2 separate regions of the Homo sapiens genome follow, and region 1 is linked to region 2. The links come from fine-mapping of genetic effects on gene expression. A gene starts in region 2. The other region holds a variant in brackets. All regions are shown on one strand. Distances are between the middles of the regions.

What was found. PIP is the estimated chance that this variant, and not a neighbour inherited with it, causes the effect.
Region 1: its variant is fine-mapped to the expression of NME1 in amygdala (GTEx, PIP 0.95).

What each region holds. Positions count from the first base shown.
Region 1 is chr17:52,132,382-52,135,296 of GRCh38, reverse strand. All of the region lies in intron 1 of CA10 (carbonic anhydrase 10), which reads left to right. Among named protein-coding and RNA genes, the nearest start is that of CA10, 25 kb to the left of the region's middle. The variant G/A (reference allele first, on the strand shown) is at 1,115.
Region 2 is chr17:51,151,834-51,154,748 of GRCh38, reverse strand. NME1 (NME/NM23 nucleoside diphosphate kinase 1) reads right to left here and starts at 1,190. Exons shown (of 5, transcript NM_000269.3): 1 at 1,087-1,190. NME1-NME2 (NME1-NME2 readthrough) reads right to left here and starts at 1,190. Exons shown (of 9, transcript NR_037149.2): 1 at 1,087-1,190; 2 at 305-524. RefSeq lists enhancers at 920-1,339, 1,123-1,654, 678-1,877.

The DNA of each region.
Region 1 (2,915 bases), 980 kb before region 2:
AAGGAGGGGCAGCATCAGGTGGTTTGTTGGTATCAAAAGTGGAGTCTTTCCAAAGAGCTAGTTTCTGTTTATCCCTTAGGGAGGAAAGCCTAACATGGTTAGCGAGGGAGGGATATACTGAGGCATGTCTGACCTCTCATCCTGTCATGGCTGAGAACTCAATTTTTAAGGTTAATCTGGGGTCCCCTTGGCCAATAGAGGGTCCATTCAGTTGGGGGGCTTAGGATTCCATTTTTATTTCTCACAGGCGACCTCAGGAGGGCAGTCAGGAGGCTCTGGTGGCAGTCTGGGTTGGAGATGCAGGTAACCTGTTGAAGGTGATGGCACACATGGAGAGCAATGGCCAGCATCAGGAGCCGTTCAGGATGTGGATTCACAGAGCCTGATGAACTGTGTATGGTGGGGGTGAGGGAGAATGGTGAGTCAGAAGGAGCCCAGGGTTCTGGCTCATGCATGGGGTGGAGGATGGCAGTGACATCCATGGTGCCAGGGCACAGTGGAAGAGGCAGCTGTCATGCATAACCTGAGCTCTGCTTTGAGTCACACAGAGAATTGCAAAATACTGTGAAGGGAAGAGGCAGATGTGCAGTTGTAGGAGGGGAGAGAAAAAGAAATAATAACCTAAGAAAGAGAAGATGATTCTTTCTCCCAGAGAGTATGCCAGGGCATAAGAACAAACTTACTATTATTATTATTTTTAACTAATATTGGCAGAACCACTATTACTAGCTGCTGGTATTGATTGTTTAGTTCATGTTTAAACTTTACAATAGCCTTCAATTCTTACCGAAATCATGTGGGTAGGCATTATTTATCATGCCTATAGAGGTGAACAGACTGAGACTCAGTGATATTAAATAATTTAGTTAAAGACAGAAAGCTTGTGGGTGGATGAGCTAGGCTTTGAACCCAAGTTTGGCACTAGAAAGTACACTCATAACTCTTAAAGAAAACCATCATCTCCCAAGGGACAAATAAATAGGTACAAGGTTACAATAAGTTAAGAATAAAATACTGAGTAACAAAGAAGCTGATGGGAGGTTATTTTAGGATTATTTCTTGAAGAAGTTGAGGTTTAGGATTATTTTCTGGAGAACTTGAAACATTTTGTTTT[G/A]AATGGGTCTATATATGCCAAATCTTTGAATGTGAGCACATTAGTTCGAAGTAGGGAAGAAATGAGATTAATAACGTATAGAGTGAAGATGGCACTGGGGGAACAGCTCTTTGAAACATTCTGCTTTACAGCCTTTTATTATGCTACCTTGCCAGTGGATGAAAGCTGCAATGCTTAGCTTGGCTCACATCACCAGCATGATATGCTAAGACACCTTTATAGATCTCACTTCCTGCCTCCCCTCGCATGCACCCTGTACAGTCATAAAGCATCTTCCCTCCTTGGTTCCTTCTTCATTCATTAATCTTCTATTCATTAAGTGACCATTAATTGACCATTAGCTAATATGTGCCAGGAACTTTACTAAGTCCTGGGGATATAAGGATAAATATCCTCAAGAAAATGATGAGTGGCTATAATATCCAGAGTCACAATTCATTACACAATATTTTGAAATATGCTATTACAAACATTGTATCTATTAAAACAGAGGCCAGAAGAGGGTATGGCTTTGTCTAAAGGAGGTGAACTTTGAGCTAGAATTAAGAACAAGTAAAAATTTGTCAAATGCATAGAGCAGTCGGAAAAATGGAAAACAGTGTTCTGTAAATGTTGACATGAGAATTGAGCAGTTTCTGATATGCAACTGTTTTTTTTTTCTTGTTAACACTTTTTGCTTTGCTCTCCCCAAATCCTGAAGCCTCTTCTTCCAGTCTCCTGTTTTCTGTTTCCTTCCACCTCTTCACTGACTTTCCAGATTAAACTCTGCATTGCGGATCTCTGACAGTTTCTCTCCTGCTTTGCTAACCACTTTAAAAAATAGACATTTAAAGGCCTTCTGTGTGTCTCCTGCTATGTTATGGCTCTCCTGCTGTGTGAATTGAAGCTCCCTGCCCAGAGGACGGATGCCCCACCGCTGGGGCGCTGGAGGCTCCAAGGCTTACCTTAGAGGTTTGCACCATGGGCTGTGATGAATGGCAGCTTGGCTTTCGTTCCCCAAGGTCAGTCACCTGTTCCATGCCTGATTTCACCAAAGGGCATGGTACCAGATTGCTTGCTCACCAAGAAGGTGAGGCCCAGACAGGGCAGTGAAGCAGCTCCATGCAACATGGATTAGGTCCAGCCCAACTCCCAGCTTTTCCTTACCTTTGGAGTCATATAATCCTTATCTGCATACTCAGCCTGCCCATGGTCCTCTGCGCTACTCCTGAGAAGAGGTAGCACTGATTTAAGCCCTGTAATTCCACCCCATATATTAGGCTCTGCTCCAAGGTACCCTTGCTGTTGTCTCACTGTGGTCCTGTGCCTCGGTTGAGCCACGAGATGTCACCTGTGTCTGGACCAAGTCCCCAGTTTGTACCCCAGTCCTGATGAGGGCCCTCTCTTCTGTACCTGGTACATGCATTTCTATTGTGTTAACCTATACAAGGACCTTGGAATCTCTAGGCTTAGGGCCCCAAATCCTCCCTAAATTTGTTTCTAGAACTGCCTATAAGCTAACTTCACTAAAACCAAGTGTGCTCAGATGGCCAGAGCCTGAGGAAAGATGCTGAATTCTGCATGTTCACTGTGCCTTCATTCCCTGTTGCTGTGCCCCACATATAAGTCAGAAACCCAGAAGTCAGATATTGGTCTTCATTCTAATTATTCAGAATAATATAGCAGTTAACAGGTACAGCACACCTTTCTCCTTTACTGTGCTTAGTACTTTAGAAGAATTGACTCACATAGCTCACAACAGTTCCATGAGTAGCACTCTGTGGCACTGGGATTCCAGTTTAGGCAGTCCTCTTTCAAAGTC
Region 2 (2,915 bases):
TAGCATTAGGGGTTTTAGAGAATATATCTTTACAACCCCCTTCATTTTACAAATGAGGAAACAGGACCACAGCACCAGAATGAAGGCCAAAACCCAGCATTCCCAACCCATTAATCCATTCTTGTAATGTTATGCTACACTTTACAATGCAAAGAATATTTTGACTAGCCAATAAACGGTGGGGTGTGGGAGAACTACAGACATTAGGAATATCTGATACGGGACATCATACTGAAAGGAAGCCTAGAGAGTAACTATTCCGTCCAGATCCCTCATTTTACAGAAGACTGCGCTCATGACCTACCCTGTATCACAGCTTGAGATAGGAGGCCCCTCGCCTTGAAAGACGATCCCTAAAGTAGACAGTAGCACCATCTCTTGGCCCCATCTTCCTGTCCTTTAGTTAACCTCTTCTTACAGCATCTTAGCACTGTAGTCCAATTTTCTGTTTGTGTGTCTGCCTCCCCTGCACACCAGGCTGACTTAGTCCTGTGTAGAGACTCTATGGTACCTAGCCACAGGGCCTAGCAGTCAATAGGAGCAAAGAAAATCATTTATCACCATTCTGCAACTTCCAAAAAAAAAAAAAGAGAGAGAGACAAAGCCCAAAGACTGCGGAGAATCGCACGATGGGGTGCGGGGCAAGCATAAATTGTCCAGGAGAAAACAGGACTAAAGCGCCAGAAATACACCCTAAAAATGTCCCTCCACATCGGTCCCGGTGACACAACAGTAAGCACTCAGTGCTTGCTGAATGAATGACACACACACCCGTCATTTATTCAGCAAGCACTTACAGAGCGCCAACTCCGTGCCCGGCACTGCTCTCGACAGACACAAATAAGGCACAGCCCTGTCGTCGCGGCCTGACGAGAAAGGCGGCCACCGACAAAGGCGAGTCCACGTGGCGTGGGACGTGCGCCGACCGGTCTGCACTTGTCCACAGGCGCTCCCTGCCCCTCCTCCCATCCGATCCTCCTCGCCGCCTCTTAGAGCTGAACTCATCTCTTCACTAACTCCTCACCTAACCCACTCCCGCGACTACACTCCTTTCTTTTTCCTCTCAGGATCCCGAACACCTCTTACCCTTCCAGCTGCTTAGGTTTGAACTCCGGCTGCAGCCGCCAGCACCCGAAACGCGCCCGGGACCCACGTGGTTCGCAGCACTTGCACGCACGGAACGCTTCTGCGCAGATCCGCTGCCGGAGAGCCCATTTTGCAGAACACCGCTCGCCCACGCTTCCTCTTGGGAGTAGGCAGTCATTCTAGGGAACAACTTTCTGCAGTTTAACTTCCGGCGCTAGCTTTTTCAGACCTTTCCGGTTAGCTGCTTGCTTTCTTCTCTCCACCCCCGGGTTCTCTGACTCACTTCCTTCGTTCGCGAGCAAATTGGCTTCCCGAGAGGTGGCGCTCACACGTTGCGTGAAGTCCAAAGAGTGCCTGACCTAGAAGTAGACTTTTCGCTCCCGCTTTGTGTTTATTCACCTTTTCTAGCCTGTCAAGCAAAAAATTTTGAGTACCTACTACGTGGACGCATTATTCTAGGCCCTAGGGATAAAACAGTATGCTCTCTTGGAGCTTCTGGGAGGGATGGGAGTATAGGAAAACAAGAAGCAAATAAGCAAATTAATATGTAATAGATCGCATTTTGTAAGTGCTGTGAAGAAAAGGCCAGAGAAATCTCTGAGTAAGTGATAATAGAATAGACCTGCATGAAGTGAGGGAGCCAGCCCAGTGATTCTTCGAGAGCCAAGTATTACGGTGGACATCGAGTGGTGGAAAATGCCGTTAGAATAGAGCCAAATCTTATGTTGTGAGATGCTAATACAGATTTTGCACAAGGCATGACATCATCACTAACAAAAAAACATTCCCACTGCTCTAAGGGGAAATGAACGGGGGAAAGGTACAAAAATGGAATCAGGAGCCGTTTCAACAAATGATGCTGGAGCAATTGGACGAATATAGACCCAAAGAACCTCAACCTAAACCTCTCACCTTATACAAAATTTACTCAAAATGAATCATAGATTTAAATGTAAAACAATAAATCACTTATGGGGAAAAAAAAAGTTAAAAAAAATCCTCAGGACCTAGGGCCAGGCAAATAGTTTTTAGACGACACCAAAAGACCAATCTATACAGGGAAAAAGTTGATAAATTGGAACTTACTGAAATTTAAAACTTTTGGCCGAGCGCGGTGGCTCACGCCTGTAATCCCAGCACGCTGGAAAGCAGCGGCGGGAGGATCACTTGAGCTCAGGAATTCGAGACCAGCCCGGGCAACATAGTGAAACCCCGTCTCTACTAAACATACAAAAATGAGCCGGGCGTGGTTGCAGGCGCCTGTAGTCCCAGCTACTCGGGAGGCTGAGGCAGGAGAATCGCTTGAACCCGGGAGGCAGAGGTTGCAGTGAGCCGAGATTGCGCCAGGGCACTCCAGCCTGGGTGACAGAGCGAGACTCGGTCTCAAAAAAATAAAAAATAAATAAAATAAATAAGTAAAATTTCATTATTCTCCTGTTTTCTTTTTTTTCTTTTTGAGACCGAGTATCGCTTTGGCGCCCAGGCCGGAGCGCAGTTGCACGATGTCGGTTCATTGCAAACTCCGCCATCCGGGTTCAAGCGATTCTCGTGACTCAGCTTCCCGCGTAGCTGGGACTACAGGCGTCTGCCACCACGCCCGGTATTTTCTTTTTCTTTTTTTTTTTTTTTTTTTGAGACGGAGCCTTGCCAGGTCGCCCAGGGTGGAGTGCAGTGGTGCGATCTCGGCTCACTGCAACCTCCGCCTCCCGGGTTCAAGCGAATCTCCTGCCCCAGCCTCCCGAGCAGCTGGGATTACAGGTGCCCACCACCACACCCGGCTACTTTTTGTATTTTTAGGAGAGACGGGGTTTCACCATGTTGGCCAGGTT